Linked DNA regions of Homo sapiens: regions 1 and 2 are each linked to region 3. A link means that fine-mapping ties the variant in region 3 to the plasma level of a protein whose gene starts in the linked region. Region 3 holds a variant in brackets. A gene starts in each other region. All regions are shown on their reverse strands.

What was found. PIP is the chance, under the fine-mapping model, that this variant and not a neighbour inherited with it causes the effect. Protein levels are from antibody-based Olink assays in UK Biobank. Linkage for the fine-mapping came from a reference panel and not from the study's own genotypes, which makes the PIPs less certain.
Region 1: IL27 starts here. The variant in region 3 is fine-mapped to the plasma level of the IL27 protein (UK Biobank, PIP above 0.99).
Region 2: ADGRE1 starts here. The variant in region 3 is fine-mapped to the plasma level of the ADGRE1 protein (UK Biobank, PIP above 0.99).

The regions. Positions count from the first base shown.
Region 1 is chr16:28,503,225-28,507,224 of GRCh38, reverse strand. IL27 (interleukin 27) reads left to right here and starts at 391. Exons shown (of 5, transcript NM_145659.3): 1 at 391-444; 2 at 3,175-3,347; 3 at 3,432-3,530. The coding sequence starts at 414.
Region 2 is chr19:6,885,192-6,889,501 of GRCh38, reverse strand. ADGRE1 (adhesion G protein-coupled receptor E1) reads right to left here and starts at 1,923. Exons shown (of 21, transcript NM_001974.5): 1 at 1,863-1,923. The coding sequence starts at 1,893. RefSeq lists an enhancer at 1,870-1,929.
Region 3 is chr2:134,206,771-134,210,770 of GRCh38, reverse strand. It overlaps a transcript of MGAT5 not described here. Among named protein-coding and RNA genes, the nearest start is that of MGAT5, 45 kb to the left of the region's middle. RefSeq lists a silencer at 3,859-4,000. The variant G/T (reference allele first, on the strand shown) is at 1,780.

The sequences.
Region 1 (4,000 bases), not on the chromosome of region 3:
GCAATCCCCTTACCTGGCTATCCATCTTTGGAAGGACAGTAGACCCTAGGATGATGGTGGCAGAGCCGAGAATCAGGAGGGGGTTTGGGACTCTGGGATCAACCAGTGAATAGGGCTGGATGGCTCACCCAAGCATGGGACATTGAGGACAGGGCTGGACGTGGGAGCTTAGCAGTGAGTCTGGAGCTTGGATGTCCCGAAACCCCAGCTTCCCGTCACCCCCCATCATACCTCCCACCCCCTCCGGGAAGGGAAATTACATTTCCCCATTTTAGCAAGGGGTGGCGAGAGGGAAGAATGAGTGAACACAAAGCTGAAAGTACAAGCAGGACGGAAAGTGAAACCGGGCACAGCCCCCAGTATAAGACCCCCCCTACCCAGGAGATGGCTGACCAAAGAGGCTGGGCCCCGCCATGGGCCAGACGGCAGGCGACCTTGGCTGGCGTGAGTTTGAAGCCAGGGGTGGGGGGCTTGGTTGAGTTTGGGCAGAGAATGGACGAGCTTGGCTGGTGCAGATGGGGGGTCGAGAGCTGAGAGCAGCAACTTGGCCAAGACTGAGGATTCGGCTGGCTGCTGCATGGGAAGGGAGGCTGGCATGACTGGGTGGGGGCCTGGGGCAGTGGGGTGGTGGTCTGACCCAGGGCTGGGCAGAGGATGAGAAGGAGGCCTTGGCTAGTGGGAATGGGGAGGGTTGGACCAGCAATTTGACAAGGACCAGGTCTAGGCAGATAAATGAAGAGTTTGGAGTGAATAAGCAGAAGCCAAACAGCTTGGCTAAGACTGAGAATGGGGCCGGCTGGAGGAAGAGCAGAACGAGGTGCTGGCACAAGTGGAGCACTGGGACCAAGATGTCAGCAGCCTCACTGGGTCAAAGGTCTTTAGTTTGATGTTGGAAAGAGGTCCAATCTGCGGCTGGTGGCTGCAGAACTCAGGGGCTAGAACCAGAGCAGTAGGCAGTGGAGAAGGTAACATGCCACGTAGGGCAGGTAGGGACCAAAGGCTGGAGGATGGAGACAGAGCCTTCAAAGGCCAGAGCCAATGACCCAGGATCAGCTGCAGAGGGTAAGGAGGGGGTCTGGGGTCTCCAGAGGTCAGGTTGGAGATGGCACAGCTCACTTACGGTTGGGCTTGATCCACCAGGGCCTGGGGGCACCCACCCTGTCCCCAACATTGAGCTAGGAAGAACCCCACTCTGCCTTAAGTCTCCAGGATGTCAGAGGGTCCGAGTGGCCCCAAAACCAGGGAGTCTGAATGCCAGAGATCTTACGTTAGGCATCGCCCACCACATCTGCAAGCCCACGAGGGAGGTAGATGTCCCTAGAAGCTCCCCTTCACCTTTATCAGGGGACATTTCGAAGAGCAGAGCCCAGGGGTTAGAGATTGAGAGAGGACAGGGAAGAGGCAGGGAGAGAAGGGAGAGCAGGATGGACTTCGGGCCAGTTTTGGTTTGTGTTTCGAGGAGAATTGTGTAACTCTTGTGCTTGCTAGATTTCCTCTCCCTGAGGGGGAAATTGATGAATGCTGCCCTCTTCCTAGAGCGCCCATCCGCTGCCCCTCTTTCCAGGAAAACACAGGTCAGGAAGCACACTCGGAATTCAGCCATTCTGGGCTGGGCGCAGTGGCTGATGTCTGTAATCCCAGCACTTTGGGAGGCCAAGGCAGGCGGATCACCTGAGGTCAGGAGTTGGAGACCAGCCTGGCCAACACGGCAAAACCCCTCTCTACTAAATATAATAAAAATTAGCCAGGCGTGGTGGCTACTCAGGAGGCTGAGGCAGGAGAATTGCTTTAACCTGGGAGGTGAAGGTTGCAGTGAGTCGAGATCGCGCCACTGCACTGCAGCCTGGGTGACAGAGTGAGAATCTGTCTTAAAAAAAAAAAAGCTCCCATACTGTGGATTCGCCCCAGGCAGGTTACCCTGCTAGGATCCACCTGCCGTGGTGGAAACTGGACAAACCTGTCCTTTTGACTCCCTGGAATAGAGCCTCTGGCATTGCCAGCCCATCCCTGGGGACCTCATGGCCAGTTCAAGCCATCAGAGCCGCTTGGCTGAGCCCAAAGAATCCTTGCCAGAACATGGTGTGCCCACTCCTGGGGCAGATGGCTGCCTCCCTCTGCATTCTCTGGGGAAAACCCATGGGCTCTGCATTTGGAAAAACCTGGAATCCAGTCCTGGCTTCCCACCTTCTGGCTATTTGACCTTGGGCAAGTCAACCTCACTGAGCCTCACCTGCAAATTGGGGAGAACAATAGCACTGAGGCTGCCACACGTGGTTGTGCAGGTTGCTCACTGAAAAAGGCATTTGGCCAAGGGAGTTTATGGGGGTCAAAATCCAGTCTCTGTCCCGGCACAGTGGCTCATGCCTGTGATCCCAGCAATTTGGGAGGCTGAGGCGGGAAGATCTCTTGAGGCCAGGAGTTCAAGACCAGCCTGGGCAACATAGTGAGACCCTGTCTCTACAAAAAAATAGAAACAGTTAGGCACAGTGGTGTGTCCCTGTGATCCCAGCTACTTGGGAGGCTGAGGCGAGAGGATCACTTGAGCCTAGGAGTTCAAGGCTACAGTGAGCTGTGATCACACCACTACACTCCAGGCTGGGTGATAGAACAGAACTCTGTTTCAAAAAAAAAAAAAAAGGATCAGGCTTCTGGTCTTTTTGCAAAAGTGGGCACACCATGCGGAGATGCCATATGGGGGCCGTGCTGGCTGCATCGTGGGGTTTTGTTTTGTTTTGTTTTGTTTTGTTTTTTTGAGACAGAGTCTGGCTCTGTCGCCCAGGCTGGAGCACAGTGGTGTTAGCTCACTGCAGCCTCTGCCTCCCAGGTTCAAGCGATTCTCCTGCCTCAACCTCCTGAGTAGCTGGGATTACAGGCATGCACCACCACGCCCAACTAATTTTTGTATTTTTAGTAGAGACAGGGTTTCGCCATGTTGGCCAGGCTGGTCTTGAACTCCTGGCCTCAGGTGATCCGCCCGCCTCGGTCTCCTAAATTGTTGGGATTACAGGTGTGAGTCACCGCACCCAGCCTCCATTGTGGTTTTGAGGAGGCAGAGGAATGATGCTGGTCAAAGTGCCTGCACCGTGCTCACAGCTAGCACAGGCTCAGAAAAGGCATGTTCCCTTCCTTCTCAAGCTCTCTCCCTGTCTTGCCACCCTCTTCCCATCTCTCCAGGGCTCAGCCTGTTGCTGCTTCCCTTGCTCCTGGTTCAAGCTGGTGTCTGGGGATTCCCAAGGCCCCCAGGGAGGCCCCAGCTGAGCCTGCAGGAGCTGCGGAGGGAGTTCACAGTCAGCCTGCATCTCGCCAGGAAGCTGCTCTCCGAGGTTCGGGGCCAGGCCCACCGCTTTGTAAGTCCCCCTAATGCAGCTGGCGCTGGAGATGGGCAGACCCCCAATCCCTTCTGGCCCCCACTAACAGACCTTGCCCCCCAGGCGGAATCTCACCTGCCAGGAGTGAACCTGTACCTCCTGCCCCTGGGAGAGCAGCTCCCTGATGTTTCCCTGACCTTCCAGGCCTGGCGCCGCCTCTCTGTGAGTGAGGGCTGGTGGAGTGGGGCGGGAAGCTTGTGATAGGCTGGGGCCAGGGTGCAAGATGAGGCTGGAGATTGAGCTGGAGATGCATTGGGGATAGAACCTGGATAAGGCTGAATATGTCATTGGACATAGAGATGAAAGACAGGCATGGTGACTTACACCTATAAACCCAGCACTTTGGGAGGCCCAGGTGGAAGGACTGCTTGAGGCCAGGAGTTCAAGACCAGTCTGGGCAACATAGTGAAACTTTGTCTCTACAAAAAAAAATTTAAGAGTTAGCCAGGCATGGTGGTGTACACCTTTGGTCCCAGCTACTCAGGAGGCTGACATGGGAGGATTGCTTGAGCTCAGGAGTTGGAGGCTGCAGTGAGTTATGATCCTGGACTCCAGGATGGAGAACAGAGGGAAACCCTGTCTCAGAAAAATAAATAAACTGCCAGGCGTGGTGGCTCATGCCTGTAATCCCA
Region 2 (4,310 bases), not on the chromosome of region 3:
GGCCAGGATGGTCTCGATCTCCTGACCTCATGATCTGCCTGCCTCAGCCTCCTAAAGTGCTGGGATTACAAGCGTGAGCCACTGCGCCCTGCCCATTTTTTAGTGTTTAAAGGCAATGCAGCCCTGCAGCATTTAGGTCTCCTGCACCATCATCATTATCGCCATCATTATCACTATCATCATCACCATCATCATCTTCATCATCACCATCATCATCATCATTATTATCACCATCATCACCATTATCATCATCACCATCACCATTATCACCATCACCACCATCATCATCATCACCACCATAATCACCAACATCACCATCTTCATCGTCATTATCACACCATCATCACCACCATCATCATCATTATCCCTATCATCACCATTATCATCATCACCATCATCACCATCTTCATGGTCATTATCACACCATCATCATCACCATCATCTTCATTATCACTATCATCACCATTATCATCATCATCATCATCACCATCACCATCATCATCACCATTTTCATCATCACTATTATAACCACCACCATCATGATCATTATCATCACTATCATTATCACAACTCTTTGCTGATTATCTTCAGGGCAGAATAGGGAGTGTTAATGGTTAATACCATTGCCAACACCCCAAAATAACAACTCTGCATGCCTACATTTGATGTCCACAGGCCACCTATTTCTTCTAATGTAGCCTGCCAGTCAACAAGTCCCACAGATCTAAACTCCCAAATTCTATCTATTATTACTAACAAAAATTCTTCTACTCATTCATTAATTATTTTAGAGGTAATTCAGCATGCTGTTTAGGCATACAAAGTCTGAAGTCAAAGTGCTTAGGTTTAAAAATCTGGCTTCACCAATTAATGATTGCGTGGCCTTGAGGAAGTTATTTAATCTCTTTGTGCCTCAGTTTCCTCCTTGGTAAAATAGGGTATTCAGATCCACTCTTCAACAGCAGAGGAAACCCATACTTGCTACTTAGAATATGTCCCCAATATCCTCCATTCTTAAATTTGATCCAATGACCAAAACACACAAGACATAGAAGAAAAACCAGAAACACAGAAGATAAACAAGGCTGAGACAAACTGACACCTGAAGAAAGAGAAATAAGAGCACAGGAAGGGTCTATCTCATCCTTCAGGACTCAGCTCGAACTGCCCCTCCTCAACCCCAGACTTCTCCCTTCAACATAACTCCCGACCACATTCTATAACAACTTCTTTCATAGCACTTATCACTACCTGAAATTCCTATGTTTACTTATTTTTTGGGGCAACATAGTATAGTGGAAAAGCTTACAGACTCTGAAGTCAGACTGTCTGGCTTGAAATCCTGCCTCTACCCCTTATTGACTAAGTGGCCTTGGGAAAATTATTTTATCTCTTTTGCCTCAGTTTTCTCATTTGCAAAATAGGACTAATAATGACCCAATGTCATAGAAATGTTGTGACAATTGGATACACTCTATGTTTAAAGAAGTTACAGCAGTGCTAAGTGGGCTATGATCATCTGTGCCTTCTTTCCTGTCTGCTCCTACCCACTAGAATATCAGCCTCAAGAGTGCAGGAACTTAGTCTTTTTTTCTCACTGCTATATCCTCTAGTGCCTAGAACAGCACCTGACACACAGGACTTGCTCAGGTCAAATGAATGACTATAGAGAAAAATCTATCCTAACAGATGGACTTCCCTGAGCTATGGAATTTTGTCAAAGGTTCCCTGAATGAAGGTGTTTGCAGCATCCAGTCTGGACTTATGATCTCTTGGCTGGACCATCCATGGCCCTCCCATTTCTCCTGAAGTCTATTTCCAATCCAGGCCTCCCCTAGCCCCCCATTCAGCCTCACACTCACCCCAGAAGAGGAGCAGGTTGAAGCCACGCATTATGCTGTAGTTCTGTCATTCAAAGAAAAGAAACTTTTCTACTAACGCTGGGTTTTCAGTAACCAGAAGGTGTGCGAAGAGGGGAAGGCGGAGTCAGAGTTGCTCAATGCTGCCTGGTCATCATAGCCCTTTTTGCTGACTTGCTGCAACTAAAAGACAGCCTAGAAAATCCTAATTTCCCCCTTTCTTCACAATAAAGAGAAGTTAATCTGCCTAATGTATATCATTCTCTCTCTCTCTCCTTCCCATGGTCTCTCCCTTTTTCTTTCCCATCAACATCTATCTCCCATCTCTCAACACCTTCTTTCATTGCACCCAATAAAGGAGCTTCCGCTTCCTGCCTCCAGTGAAGCAAATCTCAGCCTTTAGGGTCTCTTCCCAGTCTCCCGTATAAAGACAGCCATCACAACCATCATGTACCAGGCAGTGTGCTAGGCACATTGGCAACAAAGTGTAATTTCATTATCATGTTAACCTTGTAAAGTAGGAATTCCCCTCCCTCCCTCTATTCACCAACAAAATGGAAACTGAGACTTGCAGAGGAGTTATAACTTGTCCAAGATCTCTCAGACTTGAGATTTGAACCCAGGACCCTCTGATTCCAGAGTCAAGAGCTTTAACCATCTTATTTTCCTTCAGATCTCAACTCTGTCTGACGATTATACAGCAACACTTCCACCCCATTCCCAGCTTCCTAACTCTCTCTGGTAACATCTTAGGGTCTCACAAGGGCAGACCCTCAGACAAGGATTCTAGCAAAAGTAGTTTATCAAGAAGGTGGCCCCAGAAAGCACCAGCTGGGGGAGGAGAAAGTGAATCAGGAAAGGCAAAGAGCCAATACTGGGTGTGTCTTCAAATAAGTTACATGGTGAGAAAGTGGAACTTAACCTCCCCAGGGATGACTGGGGAGCGGCATGGAACATACTCTTCAGTTATTCCAACCGAGGGGTGAGGGAGCTGAGGTATTTATATCCCACCTACTGTCAGTCATGGGTTGACTTGAGGCTTGCTCCTAGAGGGTGTCAACCCCTTGAATCTTCAGGCCTGGCCTCCAAGCAGATAGAATGGGCTCCAGTTGATGTAATCCCACTGATAACAAAGTGTAGTGACTGGCAGATATTGAAGCAGTGTCATCCATCTGGGGTAATACCCGAGGTTCATTGCCTCACACCAAGGAAATAGAAAATACAGACATGGCCGGGCACCGTGGCTCACACCTGTAATCTCAGCACTTTGGGAGACTGAGGAGGGTGGATTACGAGGTCAGGAGTTCAAGACCAGCCTGGCCAAGATGGGGAAACCCCGTCTTTACTAAAAATACAAAAAATCAGCCAGTGTGGTATGGTGTTAGGCACCTGTAATCCCAGCTACTCCGGAGGCTGAGGCAGAGAATTGCTTGAACCCAGGAGGCGGAGGCTGCAGTGAGCCGAGATCGTGCCACTGCACTCCAGCCTAGGCAACAGAGTGGGACTCTGTCTTAAAATAAAATAAAATAAAATAAAATAAAATAAAATAAAATAAAATAAAATAAAATGCAGACACACAAAAAATTACTTTTAGAGCAGAGGTTTAGGCCGAGCACAGTGGCTCATGCCTGTAATCCCAGCACTTTGGGAGGCTGAGACGGGTGGATCACCTAAGATCAGGAGTTTGAGACCAGCCTGGGCAACATAGTGAAACCCCATCTCTACTAAAAATACAAAAATTAGCCAGGTGTGGTGGCTCATGCCTGTAATTCCAGCTACTCAGGAGGCTGAGGCAAGAGAATCGCTTGAACCCGGGAAGCAGAGGTTGCAGTGAGCCGAGATTGTGCCATTGAACTCCAGCCTGGGTGACAGAGCAAGACTCCATCTCAAAAAAAAAAAAAAAAAGAAAGAAAGAAAAGAAATTTAATAGGCGAGAGAAAGAGAAAAGCTCTCTCTCCTGCAAAGAGAGGGGGCTCCCAAGTGGGTCTTCCAGTTTCATGGTGAAATGCACGGGGTTTTATAGATGAGCTTTAGGTGGTGATATCTGATTTACATAAGGGCCCAAAGATTAGTTGGACCAGGTGTGCCGTTTACATAGAGTACAAAGAAGCTGGCTGCCCACCCTAATATTTTATTATGCAGATGGGGTCTCTACCTGGCCAGGACCATGTTGCCTGTTCCTTTACCGTACACGTGGTTGATAAAGAAAAGGGAACATGGAGCAAGCCTGCATGTTGAACACGCCTGGCACCCAGGTAGCCTATTCCCATTGGCACAGCTGCCGGCATTCACCCGAGCAAGCTTCCAGCTTGCTTTTCTATGTCTGCCGGCTGATTTTTCAGACTGCTCTTTTTTAGAAAAGAAATTATTTGGCCGGGCGCGGTGGCTCACGCCTGTAATTCCAGCGCTTTGGGAGGCCGAGGCGGGTGGATCACAAGGTCAGGAGTTTGA
Region 3 (4,000 bases):
TTTACAGATTCAATGCCATCCCCATCAAGCTACCAATGACTTTCTTCACAGAATTGGAAAAAACTACTTTAAAGTTCATATGGAACCAAAAAAGAGCCCGCATCGCCAAGTCAATCCTAAGCCAAAAGAACAAAGCTGGAGGCATCACACTACCTGACTTCAAACTATACTACAAGGCTACAGTAACCAAAACAGCATGGTACTGGTACCAAAACAGAGATATAGATCAATGGAACAGAACAGAGCCCTCAGAAATAATGCCGCATATCCACAACTATCTGATCTTTGACAAACCTGAGAAAAACAAGCAATGGGGAAAGGATTCCCTATTTAATAAATGGTGCTGGGAAAACTGGCTAGCCATATGTAGAAAGCTGAAACTGGATCCCTTCCTTACACCTTATACAAAAATCAATTCAAGATGGATTAAAGATTTAAACGTTAGACCTAAAACCATAAAAACCCTAGAAGAAAACCTAGGCATTACCATTCAGGACATAGGCGTGGGCAAGGACTTCATGTCCAAAACACCAAAAGCAATGGCAACAAAAGCCAAAATTGACAAATGGGATCTAATTAAACTAAAGAGCTTCTGCACCGCAAAAGAAACTACCATCAGAGTGAACAGGCAACCTACAACATGGGAGAAAATTTTCGCAACCTACTCATCTGACAAAGGGCTAATATCCAGAATCTACAATGAACTCAAACAAATTTACAAGAAAAAAACAAACAACCCCATCAAAAAGTGGGCGAAGGACATGAACAGACACTTCTCAAAAGAAGACATTTATGCAGCCAAAAAACACATGAAAAAATGCTCATCATCACTGGCCATCAGAGAAATGCAAATCAAAACCACTATGAGATATCATCTCACACCAGTTAGAATGGCAATCATTAAAAAGTCAGGAAACAACAGGTGCTGGAGAGGATGTGGAGAAATAGGAACACTTTTACACTGTTGGTGGGACTGTAAACTAGTTCAACCATTGTGGAAGTCAGTGTGGCGATTCCTCAGGGATCTAGAACTAGAAATACCATTTGACCCAGCCATCCCATTACTGGGTATATACCCAAATGACTATAAATCATGCTGCTATAAAGACACATGCACACGTATGTTTATTGCGGCATTATTCACAATAGCAAAGACTTGGAACCAACCCAAATGTCCAACAATGATAGACTGGATTAAGAAAATGTGGCACATATACACCATGGAATACTATGCAGCCATAAAAAATGATGAGTTCATGTCCTTTGTAGGGACATGGATGAAATTGGAAACCATCATTCTCAGTAAACTATCGCAAGAACAAAAAACCAAACACCACATATTCTCACTCATAGGTGGGAATTGAACAATGAGATCACATGGACACAGGAAGGGGAATATCACACTCTGGGGACTGTGGTGGGGTCGGGGGAGTGGGGAGGGATAGCATTGGGAGATATACCTAATGCTAGATGACACGTTAGTGGGTGCAGCGCACCAGCATGGCACATGTATACATATGTAACTAACCTGCACAATGTGCACATGTACCCTAAAACTTAGAGTATAATAATAATAATAATTAAAAAATAAAAAAAAAAATAAAAAAAAAAAAAAAAATAAAAAAAAAATAAGCCAGTTCTATATACAATCCCTCTGCCCATCCACCTCCTCATCCCCGGTAAATACACAAAAACAAAAGAGGAAGACAAGTGACTGCAAGTGACACAGGGGAAGTGAGGTCTGGGTCTTCCCATGCACAAGGCCTCCTTCATGCTGAT[G/T]TAACAGAACACCAGGAAACCCTGCTCCCAGAACACTGGGGAAAAACAGACACTGACCACAACACTGGGGCATCTCCTTATTGATTCTCTCGGTTATTTATTTTCCCCAGAGGCTGGGAGTAAGATAATGCTTTCCTAAAACAAAGAATATGGTATAAAAACAAAATTTTTTAGAAGTCCAGCCAAGAAAGGCCACATAGGTGGGTAAGGTAATGTTTTATTAAATGTTTACATTCCCTAGATATTAAGTTTCAGAACTTGTCTAGGCTCTGTTCCCTTGGGCATTTCATACATAAGTAATACAAGTTCTTCCTTAGCTTTTATCCACAAATGGGATAAAGACCATGTTTCTGGTATACATATGCATCTATGTTATTTATATTATAACAACTATAGTAAATAAATGCATGTTTTTGCCTGCTGGGAATAAAGGCATATCCTATCCTCATTTCTCACATATTCTACTTAAAATGTTCCTAAGTAGCTTACCAGCTACTCTCTTATCTGCTGAAACTAACCAAATTCTGGCTGATGGTCAAAGACTATTTCCCTTGGGCACCAAGCTTCCTAAACAGTCAGGATGGTCTAATAAGGTTTTTTCTGAGTGTGGTACATTTACACCGTAGCATACATACTAATAGTTAAGTATTTGTTGCAACATGCATACGCACATCAAATTCATAAGCTGCTATATGCTGTCAATTAGAATGAGACCAAATTAAAATAAATGAGTTGATGCAGGATAAACTGAAGAAAATATGTTAAGTAACAAGTATAGGTGGTAACGTGAATATGGTGGAAACTAAGTCCAAAGTTTGGAAAATACTGGTCTGCTTAAAAAAAAAAAAAGTTCGGCCAAGAGTCTGAAAACTCTGATTCTATGTGCTGTCTTAATGTGTCCTTGGGGATCCTTCACTTATCATCCCTAGGCAGGCCTCACTACAATGATAGCAACAAAGCTGATAGGGTTAGGACAGTGTGACAAATGTGAAAACTTTTGGAAGTAGAACGCAAAGTCTTTTCACCTTCCAATCAGGTGTGACCACTGGCCAGCTGAGAAGCATGGACCTTTAAGTTATGACACACAAACCAACAAGGTATCAGAGTCAATGCTAATCCCTCTCCTTAAAACCTCCCTGAGTTGTGGAAAGTCATCTTGCCAAGCCTCTGGGCAAAGACCTCCTGAGGTTGGCTTGGTGGCAGGCAGGGGGCGGTAGATGGCAAGAGCACAAATGATACATATCACTGCAACCTGGTGTCTGATCTCAATAACACCTCTGCACAAGACCCCTGGTAAGGCAGGGCTTTCCAAGGTCAGGATTTGCCACTAAGCTCTTAAAATCTCTTCTGATCCTAGCAGAAGTAAACGATCAGTATCTCTGGTAAGCAACTGTATTTTTCTTTTTTTTTTTTTTAACCTTTCAGTGTCATTGTGAGGTTTGCCACATGCCTTGAGAAATAAAGCCCAATCTGAATGCTCAAACATGAAAGTCTGGCTGGCTCAGGCAATTGGAAGAAGATACCCATGCATGGTAACCGCTGAATGACAAGTTAGGTTTCCTGGAGAGAAAGACCTAACTATTCACCTTATATACTTAAATAATTGCCTCCTTTTTAAGGCAAAATAACAGCTCCTAAAGATGTCTCTGTCATAGCCCCAGAATCTGAGTATGTTACACCTTACATGGCAAAGGGCAATTAAGGATGCAGATGGAGTTAAGGTAGCTAATCAGCTGACCTTAAGATAATTATCAAGGTGGGTCTAATGCAATCACAGCGTCCTTAAATGCGGAAGAGGGAAGCAGAAGAATCACTATCTAAAAAGTGTCAAAGACTGGCTTGAAGACATAAGAAGCCATGAGTGAAGGAATGTGGACAGACTCTAGAAGCTGGAAGAGTCAAGAAAACAGATTCTAAGAGCCTCCTGAAAGGAACACAGTCCTGCTGACACTGGATTAGCCCAGTGAGACTCTGTATTGGTTCCCTATTGCTGCTATAACAAATTGTCATTAATAATTACCTATACTTAGTGGCTTAAAACAACAGAAAACTCTTCTCTCACAGTTCCAGACTCCAGATGTCTGAAATTGGTATCACTGGGTAGAAGCGAAGGGGTAGGCAGGACAGGGCCGTGCTCCCTCCAGAGGCTCTAGGGACAGTCGGTTCCTTGCCTCTTCCAGCTTCTGGTGGCTGCATGTATTTTTTGGCTTGTGGCCACAGC